Linked DNA regions of Homo sapiens. The protein of the gene in region 1 interacts with the protein of each later gene in a biochemical or structural test. Each region holds a gene or a part of one and is shown in the gene's direction. Other genes may lie near its edges. The genes, in order: FAT1, APBA3 and RAPGEF6.

Region 1 (3,652 bases):
TTTGAATCTCAGAATTAGTAAGTTTAATGATAATTTTTATTGTATAAACGTAATACGTTTATTATTAAACATATTAATATGTTATACATTTCAAATATTTTATTGGTGGGAAAAGGTAACCCCACTAATAATTATTCAATCCAGAGTAATATAGTCCATAATACATCATATAGTCCATAAATCCATATAGTCATTATCTATTGCAGTCATTTTTCAAACTAAAGATAGCTATAAGTATGTGCTATCATTTCTGATTTCAAGTATATATATATATATATATATATACTTTCAAGTATATATATATATACACACTCTATTCCTAATCAACACAGGTATATTTTGATACCGTATATATGGTATCAAAATATACCTGTGTTGATTAGGAATAGGGTGTATGGACATAGCTTTGCTTGTTAAACCAACAAGATAGAATTATGTCTTTTATCAATTTTAATTCTAAGAAGTTCCTGTTTCCAGTTTATGTAATAATTTATATCTTGGCCCCTAAATGCTCTTTATAAATACATTTCAGAATTTTATCAGCATTTTCTTTCTAGTTCTTGTTGTTGGAACATCAGTCTTCTTAATAATAGTCCCAGGTGGCCGGGCGCAGTGGCTCACGCCTGTAATCCCAGCACTTTGGGAGGTGAAGGCGGGCGGATCACAAGGTTGGGAGATCGAGACCGTCCTGGCAGTGAAACCCCGTCTCTACTAAAAATATAAAAAAAATCAGCCGGGCGTGGTGGTGGGCACCTGTACTCCCAGCTACTGGGGAGGCTGAGGCAGGAGAATGGCCTGAGCCCGGGAGTTGTAGCTTGCAGTGAGCTGAGGTCACGCCACTGCACTCCAGCCTGGGCGACAGAGCGAGACTCTGTCTCAAAAAAAAAAATAGTCCCAAGTGCTTTCAATAAGTTATGGTCAAATTAGTTATGAAAACTAGCTTCCAGATAGTACAATGCAGAGAAAAAACATATATACAGGAGTGTTTTTATTTTACTCATTACCATAATGTAATTATCAGTTGTAAACTGAAAGTCTGCTGAGAGTCTGTTCCTGCGTCGTATTCCCGGTTTTCCAGGGCCATTACAGATTACCACAAACTTTGTGGCCTAAAACAATGTAGACTTGTGTTGCTGTCATTCTGTAGCTTAGAAGCCCAACCCCTGTGTCTCACAGGGCTTAAGTCATGCGATCAGTAGGGCTGCATTGCCTTCTGCAGCTCGAGGGAAGAACCTGTTTTCCTTCCTTTCCTGGTTTTTAGAGGCTGCCCACATTCTTTGGCTCTTGGTTTCTTCCATCTCAGAGACAGCAACACAGTGTTTCATTGACCACCCTTCTGTCAGCAGAGCTCCCCCCAGCCGTAACTGGGAACGCCTCTGTGCAGAAAAGTTACCCTTATGATTACACTGGGCCCACCCAGGTAATCCAGGGAAATCCCTCATCTCAATTTCCTTATCTGAACCGCGTCAACAAAGTCCCTTTTGCCATGTATAGTGACATATTCACAGGCTCCTGGGATTAGGACGTGGACTATTTGAGGGCCAGCCTTCTGCCTACCACATGCGTACATATTTACCTTGGCATAGTTATTTTAAAACAATCTGATACACAAATGAAAAGGGAATTTACACAGGAAACAGACGGACAGAGTCTCCTCCTATACTCGTACATTAGCTCACCAGCGATTAGTCCATCTGCAAACAGACGAGAAATTTGCAGGGAAAGCAATCAGAACAGGGACAAAAACATTCTTGTTTTAGATTGCATATGTTTCTCCTTCAATTTCTTTTTTTTGGGGGACAATGTGTGAGTGATTAAGCAGCCGGAAGAGTGGCGAACCACAGACTGTAGTCTTGGAATGTCGAGTCTTGCCTGTAAGATGTTAAAATAAGAATCGTTTTGGCCTGGCATGATGCATAATTGTAATTGTGAAAAAATTTAAAGCTAAAAGTTTTTTTGTTTAAATTCCAATAAAATATGTTTACGTTATTCCTTTGATTAATAATAACAAATATATAGCTCGATTAAAAAAGTCTCTGAGACACACAGCTAACAGTGAGGAGACCACGCATCATTATGTGGTTGTATTAAAGCACTCATCGGTTGGAATCTGAGGTAGAAATGGTATAATACAAAACTTTATTTCATGCACTGTTTTCTAACTAACTGAAGATGTTCCTAATTGACTGCTTTTGTACCTTTTTGCAAGCTTCCATAGTGACCGTAATGCACCTTGTCAATGCTGTGGTTGACACGGTGAGCACAGAAGGTACAGTTGTAAGTGCTCGTGCTTGTGTCTGTGTCTTGCAGCAGCCGTGTCGTAGAGCTCGGCCGCATTGCTATTGCAATGGTAGGAAAAAACAGTTTGTGGTTTTGAGGGGGTTGAGTCCTTTTATTTTATGCAGGTGTGTATATACGTAATATGAGTGCTTTGCAAAAAATATCTCAATGTATGTTATGTCTTTGTTCCTTTTTACCATTCATAGTGATTTACATGAGATCTGGAGAGCTTATCTGTAGGTGGTGCAATCAAGAAAAAGTTCAGAAGTAATTTTACCTAAAATTTTTTTGAAACAAAAATTCTTCTTCGTATGTACAGGAATAAGACTTGAATAATGTAAAGCTTTCATAATTAACCTGTAACTGACTCTTCACTTTTGGTTTTTCCCTGAGTATGATCAAAGAAAAGGGTGTAGAGCATGGTAAAAGAATATTTTCATATTTGGTTTAGTGAAAATTATTTAATGTGAAGCTTTATCTGCTCAGAGTTGTAAGAAAGGACATTGAGCACCTTCCCCAAATTATTTTAAATTAAAATAGCCCTTTATTAGTGCACTGAAATTCATCACATGGGGAAGACACAGGCTAGTACTTTTCAAACTGTAATGTGAATCAGATCATCTGGAGGGCTGTTAAAAGCCCAATTGCTGGTTCTCAGCACCAGCATTTCTGATCCAACAGGTCTGGGTTGGGACTTTAGAATTTGCATTTTTCACCAGTTCCCAGGTAGCTCTGATGGTGCCGGTCTAGAGATCCCACTCGAGAACTGCTTACAGAGGCCATCGAGTACACAGACGTCATCATAGAGTTCGGGGGATCCTTTATGCTAGGACATGATGCTGTCAAGGTTCAGGAGGAGGGAGGATAGCTCTGGGCCCCATTTGCTATCAGGCAGAAGAGGCTTAGATACTCCAGTGTTCATGGTTATAGTTACTGATGACGCCTACACTTCTTTTCCTAAGAAGTACCATGTTTTCACTGGGCAAATCAGAAACATACCTGTATTTTGTCTAGTGAAGTTTTAGTGTTAAACTGATGACCTTCAGCATTTTAAATATTATTGAAGCTTATAGAAGCAGAATTTCAACAGTTCCTTCATTGCAGTCTCCTTCATTGACAAATATTTTTTGGCATATCCAAGAAGTGCACATGGAATTTAAAGTTGAAAGCTATTACTAGTGCCTACGTAACAAAAGTTGTTGATCTTTTTTTGTTTAAAGGAATTGCTGCTTTTGTTACTAGACTTAAAAATGATTCTGTAGATACATGTTACCTAAATGCCGGCGTATTCATGTTTTAGAGACACCACAGTCTTTTAAAATTACTGAAATTTCTAGAAGTGAACTATCAATCAAATATTTGTCCCAAATTA
Region 2 (3,652 bases), on another chromosome or scaffold:
AGCTGCCTGACGCGATTGTGATTAAGATGTTCTGGAATCACGGAGCAGAGAAGTCTGATTCTAGAGTGATAATAAGATTCTAAAACTCCTGACAGAATTGCTATGAGACCTGTCAGAGAGTTCTGGAATCAAGGGTCAGAACCAGCTGGGGTTCTGGAGAGTATGGGAATTTTAGACAGGCAGCAGGGTCTGTCTCTGTTCTGAGTGGTTCTACAACCCGGGAACAGAGCTGCCTGCTATCCTGGGCTGACTGCAGACGGTTCTAGAACAGTGGGCAGAGCTGGCCAGTTCTAGATTGATGGAGGGAATTCCAGAACCAAGAAGCAGGGGTCCACTGTGGTTCTAGAATGTTGTGGAGGTTTCGAAATTGGAGTGGGGGGTGGAGCGTCGTGGCTCACGCCTGTCATCCCAGTACTTTAGGAGGCCAAGGCGGGTGGATCACTTGAGGTCGGGAGTTTGAGACCAGCCTGGCCAACGTGGCGAAACCCCGTCTCTACTAAAAATACAAAAACTAGCCAGGCGTGGTGGTGGGCGCCTGTAATCCCAGCTACTCATGAGACTGAGGCAGGAGAATCGTTTGAACCCAGGAAGCGGAGGTTGCAGTGAGCTGAGATCACACCACCGAGCTCCAGCCTGGGCGACAGAGCGAGACCGTGTCTCAAAAAAGCAGGAGTGGGACTGTCTGGTTCCGGCCTGATCATGGAATTCTGGGGACACGGGGTGAAGGTATCTGTGGGTGCTAGATCTGGCTTTGAATCCAGCCATGGCCTGGACTCACTGGTTTCCCACCTGCGAGTCCTTGAGGGATGGACAGAAGGTTCTAGACCTGTGAGGGCCAGGCTGCTTGGATGGTTCTAGAACAGTGGGCTGTGCTTCCTGGCTGGAGAGTGCTAAGCCACCAGCTAGAACACTGTGTCTCCCGGCCATCTCGGAGAGCGTAGCCCTGGGGCAGAGCCTGTGGGAGTGGGCCCCTGGGGGCCGACCCTCTTCGCTGTCGCCCTCAGTGCCTGGTCCCTGTGACCATGAAGACCTCCTGGACGGTGTCATATTTGGGGCCAGGTACCTGGGGTCCACCCAGCTGGTGTCGGAACGGAACCCGCCCACCAGCACGCGCATGGCCCAGGCCCGGGAGGCCATGGACCGCGTCAAGGTGAGGGGGCGGCCGGGGCCGGGCGGGCAGGCGGGTGGGCTGCAGGCTGGGTCTGTGGGGGCCTCCACCTCCCACGCCGCCACCCACAGGCCCCCGATGGGGAGACCCAGCCCATGACGGAGGTGGACCTGTTCGTCTCCACCAAGAGGATCAAGGTCTTGACAGCGGACTCCCAGGTACGGGGCAGGGACCCGCCCCAGGGATGCGGGTGGGGTGATCGAGCCTGGCACGGCCCCCCAACCCACCCAGGCTGCCTCTCCCGCCCCAGGAGGCCATGATGGACCACGCCCTGCATACCATCTCCTACACAGCCGACATCGGCTGCGTGCTGGTGCTGATGGCGCGGCGGCGGCTGGCACGGAGGCCGGCACCCCAGGACCACGGCCGCCGCCTCTACAAGATGCTCTGCCACGTATTCTACGCGGAGGACGTGAGCAGCCAGGGCGCGGGGCCACCCTCCTGAGGCCCTCCTCACTGCAACTGTCGCCTCCCTCAGTGGGCCGTGCATTTAACCTCCCTCCCATAAGCTTATTTTTAAATTCTTTTTTTGGGACAAGGTCTCCTTCTGTCACCCAGGCTGGAGTGCAGTGGCGCAATCATAGTTCACTGCAGCCTCAACCTTCCAGGCTCAAGCGATCCTCCCACTTCAGCCTCTCTAGTAGCTGGGACCACCGGGGTATCACCATGCCTGGCTAATTTTTGTATTTTTTATAGAGACACGGTCTCGCTCTGTTGCCCAGGTGAACACGGTCTCAAACTCCTGGGCTCAAGCGATCCACCCACCTCAGCCTCCCAAAGTGCTGCAATTACAGGCGTGAGCCACCGCGTCCAGCCTCCTATAAGACTCCAAGACTCTCGGCCGACTCCCCGAAACCTTGCCCGCTCCTGGGCTGTCCCTGCCACCCATGAGGCCCCAGGCCCCCTGGCTGGGTCTTTGATAGCTTTTCCCACAGCCCATGCGCAGGGAGCTGCCTCCCTCATCGTCCCCCCAGCCCAGGGCTGCCCCTCCCCTTCCTTCTCCCCGTAGATTCCCCAAGATGCGGCTGTCTCTCCACCTCCCCCAAAGCCCCAGGGCAGAAGGCTGTGTCCTGGGACTCTCACCCCAGGTGGGGACAGGAGGGCTCAGCTCTGAGGACCCTGGGGACTTTGGGGACCTGGAGGAGGTGGGTGGGACACCCCAGGGACGCGCCACTCCTCCCCGCAGGCCCAGCTCATCGCCCAGGCCATTGGCCAGGCCTTCGCCGCCGCCTACAGCCAGTTCCTACGGGAAAGCGGTATTGACCCCAGCCAGGTGGGCGTGCACCCGAGCCCAGGCGCCTGCCACCTCCATAATGGGGACCTGGACCACTTCTCCAACAGTGACAACTGCCGGGAGGTGAGTGAGGTGCTGGGCAGCCCCCACCTGGTGCCCCCCACACCCGTGCACCTGCACCGGGCCCTGCTGAGCAGCCTCCGCGCCCCCTGTGTGTCCCAGGTGCACCTCGAGAAGCGGCGAGGGGAGGGCCTGGGCGTGGCCCTGGTGGAGTCGGGCTGGGGCTCCCTGCTGCCCACAGCCGTCATCGCCAACCTGCTGCACGGGGGGCCTGCTGAGCGCTCGGGGGCCCTCAGCATCGGGGACCGCCTGACCGCCATCAACGGGACCAGCCTGGTGGGGCTGCCCCTGGCTGCGTGCCAGGCCGCTGTCCGCGTGAGTTTCCTGGTGTGGCAGGGCCCCCACACTCCCAGGAAGGGGAGCTGAGTCCCAGAGAGGTCTCCTCCCTGGCCAGGTCTCTCCAGCCCAGCCAGGAGGGACAAAGTCGAACTTTTAAGTCCTGCCCACTGGTGTGCCCTTGGGGAAACTGAGGCCTGGAGAAGGGAGGCCACTTGTCCAGGGCACCTCCCTAGTACCAGAGCCAGGATGGAAATGCGGGTGGCCCAGCTCCAGGGCTGGGCCACTCTCTCTCTCTAACAAGAAACAGCTAATTTCTGGGGGGGTTTGTTTGTTTGAGACAAGGTCTCACTCTTGCCCAGGCTGGAGTGCAGCGGTGCACCTGGCTCATTGCAGCCTTGACCTTCTGGGCTCAAGCAAATCTCCTTCCTCAGCCTCCCGAGTAGCTGGGACCACAGGTGTGCACCACCACGCCCAGTTTATTGTTTTATTTTTTGTAGAGATGGAGTCTCACTATGTTGGTTGGCCAGGCTGGTCTTGAGCTCCTGGCCTCAAGTGATCCACCTGCCTCGGCCTCCCACAGTGCTGGGATTACAGGTGTGAGCCACTGCACCTGGCCATGTTTTTGAGTCTCAACCTTTGTTGCTCAGATGGGGAAACTGAGGCCCAGAGATAGGGAGGGACCTGCCCCCGTCAGAGGAATGAGGCCACAGTCCGTGCAGCCTCTTACAGATGTTTGCAGCCTGCCTGGAGAGCCCGGCTGTCGGCTTGGCTTTTGGCCATAAGGAAGCGATATGGCTCGGGTCAGACAGCTTCGACCCCATGCCCACCGGGCCCGAGTCTGTTCTCTATCA
Region 3 (3,652 bases), on another chromosome or scaffold:
AAAGTTGCTACATTATCATCAGTAAAGACACCACAGCTAAAGAAGTAGTTTTTCATGCTGTTCATGAATTTGGTTTGACCGGTGCATCCGACACATATTCTCTCTGTGAAGTTTCTGTTACTCCTGAGGGTGTCATAAAACAGAGAAGACTTCCAGATCAGTTCTCCAAATTAGCTGATAGAATTCAACTCAATGGAAGGTGAATAAGCTTATTAGTGGATGTGCTTATTTGTAGATGTGCTTTTGAAGATTTCCTGTTAAAACAGCTATTGTAAGTAGAAACATTATCATGTTTTAGTGCTCCTAAATTCACTCCAGAAGACGCTTGATAAAATATCTTGTCACTCCTGCTAAAATAAACTCTTAGAACCACTGATATAATCTAGTTCCTGTTTTTTTATAGAGGAAGCTGAATGATACAAATCTTCATATATATCTGAATGACTGTATCTACTAATTTATAAATTTGTTTTTAATATGGCCAGTATGTACTTTGGCAAAAGAAGCCATGGTTTTCACAGTTCTTTTTCTAAGTAGTTTTCCTTTAATGAATATGCAGGAAAATTTTAAAAATTTTAAAATGTGTTCTGAAAATTATTTAATAAACTAGATTATTTCTGTAGTACATTTGTTCCTTACTCTGGTTTTTTTTTTTTTTTTTGAGATGGAGTCTCCCTCTGTCGCCCAGGCTGGAGTGCAGTGGCGCGATCTCAGCTCACTGCAACCTCCACCTCCCAGGTTCAAGCGGTTCTCCTGCCTCAGCCTTCTGAGTAGCTGGGACTACAGGCACATGCCACCATGCCTGGCGAATTTTTGTATTTTTAGTAGAGACGAGGTTTCACCGTGTTGGCCAGGCTGGTCTCAAACTCCTTACCTCAAGTGATCTGCCTGCCTCAGCCTCCCAAAGTGCTGGCATTACGAGTGTGAGCTACCACACTCAACCACTCTGAGAATAATCTTTTTGGTAACCCAGTTTCATATGTAGAACAAGATCCCTAGAAAGCTTACAGTGACTGCATGCCATGGTTGCTGTGAAATGAGAATGAGTTAACTCTGTTTTGCTGGCTGTACATAGTGGTTAAGAGCATAGACCCTGGATTCAGATTGCCCACATTCAAATCCCAGCTCTGGCTATGTGACCTTGAGCAAGTCATATGTAGCTTCTCTACCTGAATTTCCTCACCCATAAAATGAGGATAGTAATAGTAGAATATACCTCATGGGAATGTTGTAAGGATTAAATGAGTTACTAAGTATACCATACCTTATAATGTTAAACATTATTATATATAGCATAATGAGTTTCAGCACTATTATTTATGGCATTGTCTTAGGCATATGAACAGTCTAAAAGCAGAAAAAAGAGTTTCTTGACAGTAAAAAATAGATGGATAGATGGATACAAACTTAGGCTTAAATCAAGTTGGATTATTAGAAAAGAACGAAGTAAAAGCAGGTGATACATTACCTCGTTTCCTTAGTAACATCCCTGCACAAGATGTTTCCTGTCTCTTACTTTTAAGTGCTGTAGAATTGTTGATTTAAGAGAAGAAAGCAAAATATAGGTCTTAATGTGTGGTAACTGATAAGTGCCACTTGCTGGAATGAGGTTTTGTATTTAACAAGGGAGAAACCATTAGTGGAAGTGTTTCCCCTCCTCTGTAGATTTCATTCCTCTTGCTTCACTTGGAAATTTATTTAAAAAGGAAGTGAGTGGAGTAACTTCTGAATAGAGATTTTTAACCGTCTTGATTCAGGAATTTATTTTGCCTTAATTAGAATTCATGCTATTCATAAACAAATATTTACATAGTACCAATCCTCTGTCAGATAAAACAGTAAGATAAAAGCTTTACGAGGGCAAGGCCAGTACCTAAAATAGTATCTGACAGATAGTTTCATAAAATAATTAAGTTCATGACATAACAACATTATTTTTACTCTTTAATAGATGCCAGTTGGTAGAATAAGAGACAGACTTCTCAAAAATCTTTTCATTTAAAATGTTAACTTTTCATTTTATCTGTAAATTAATATTTTTGGCTAAAAGTTATTAACAGTAAAATGATATTTTACAACGACAAAAAGGAAAAGTGCTCTTATTTAATCATATTTATGAATACATTTATTTAAAAAAATTTTTCCATTTAGGTATTACTTAAAAAATAACATGGAAACAGAAACCTTATGTTCAGATGAAGATGCTCAAGAACTAGTTAAGGAAAGCCAGCTATCCATGCTGCAGCTCAGTACCATTGAGGTGGCCACCCAGCTGTCAATGAGGGACTTTGATTTGTTTCGTAATATTGAACCGACTGAGTACATCGATGACCTTTTTAAGTTAAATTCCAAAACAGGAAATACTCATTTGAAGAGGTTTGAGGACATTGTAAACCAAGAGACATTCTGGGTTGCCTCAGAAATTTTAACTGAAGCAAATCAGCTCAAACGAATGAAGATTATTAAGCATTTTATTAAAATTGCACTTCATTGTCGAGAATGTAAGAACTTCAATTCCATGTTTGCAATAATAAGGTAAGTTGGTACAAATAGGTACAAATGTCTGTATGGTTTTGTCATTACATGCAGCTGATTTTCTACTTAGGTATTCAATGCCTATGAAAAGAAATGTTCAATTAATATGCCTTTATTGAAGTGTTGTTAGATTTAATGTATTTTCCATTTTGGTGGTATTGGCTTTTTCTATTTTTGTTTCTTCCATCTTTCTTTTACTTCTTTTTTGTAAATGAAAGTGGGTGATTGCCTTCTAATTTTTCTTTCTCTCCCTTCATCTCCAACCCCCCGCCTTGAGTGATTATATCATCTTTGGATATGTGCCCAGTGGCTGGTCTTTATCATTAGACTTCTGTACTGTGCTTTTTTAAGTACCTGCCTCACTATGATTTGACTCTGAAAAATCACAGTATGGTATCAGTACTTTGACCTAAAGTTGCTATTTTGAAACAACAACATTGATAATAATGGCAACCATTTGGTAAGCTCTTCCTGTTTGCCAGGCACTACATGAGGTTCACTGGATGTGGTGTTCCTCAAGCAAGTTAGGCTGTTAGAATAATAAAAATGTTTTGACATTCATAAGCCCAGGAAGTGTAGATAATTACGTGAGCTCTCCCACTCCCTTCTTCCCACTTATTATGAAAAGTTAATTGTAGGTAATTTATTTTCTGATCTTTATTTAGCACACTGTAGATCAACAAAGGGATTCTTCTTAAAACAAGTTTAATTTTAAAAGGGAGAGGAGTTGTAGTTAGCTCCATTTTTAAGGCCATGATGTGCTTATAAATCGCAGCATAATTCCACTTGAACTAATCCTACCTATACACATCCCCCACAGAATTCATAATGATTTGTTTCTACTCCTCATGTAGATTAAGATTAAAAAGTAGAATCTTTATAGGGACTCTTTATTCATGACCCTGTCATGGTAATAGGATGTGCCTTTATTAAATTAACCAGTGTCTACAACTGAACTGAACACTCTAGGAGTATTGAATAGAGATTAACAGAGTGGTCTTTAGAATCAGCTGCACCTGTATTTGAATCCTGCCTCTCCCATATAGTAGCAATGTGTCAGTGGAAAACTGAAGATAGGTTTTCTTATCTGTAAAATACCACCTATATCACAGTTTTT

Evidence for each region.
Region 2: the proteins of FAT1 (region 1) and APBA3 interact in a test that uses a peptide from one of them, tested with the Homo sapiens proteins (one large-scale study listed by IntAct).
Region 3: the proteins of FAT1 (region 1) and RAPGEF6 interact in a test that uses a peptide from one of them, tested with the Homo sapiens proteins (one large-scale study listed by IntAct).

Annotation. Positions count from the first base shown.
Region 1 is NC_000004.12:186,591,310-186,594,961, reverse strand, and holds part of FAT1 (protocadherin Fat 1 isoform 1 precursor), read left to right. Parts: intron 1-3,652.
Region 2 is NC_000019.10:3,751,693-3,755,344, reverse strand, and holds part of APBA3 (amyloid-beta A4 precursor protein-binding family A member 3), read left to right. Parts: intron 1-1,004; coding exon 1,005-1,150; intron 1,151-1,239; coding exon 1,240-1,326; intron 1,327-1,418; coding exon 1,419-1,580; intron 1,581-2,354; coding exon 2,355-2,525; intron 2,526-2,624; coding exon 2,625-2,837; intron 2,838-3,652. UniProt on the Homo sapiens protein: May modulate processing of the amyloid-beta precursor protein (APP) and hence formation of APP-beta. May enhance the activity of HIF1A in macrophages by inhibiting the activity of HIF1AN.
Region 3 is NC_000005.10:131,460,588-131,464,239, reverse strand, and holds part of RAPGEF6 (rap guanine nucleotide exchange factor 6), read left to right. Parts: coding exon 1-199; coding exon of another isoform or gene 200-203; exon of another isoform or gene 204-627; intron 628-2,151; coding exon 2,152-2,535; intron 2,536-3,652. UniProt on the Homo sapiens protein: Guanine nucleotide exchange factor (GEF) for Rap1A, Rap2A and M-Ras GTPases. Does not interact with cAMP.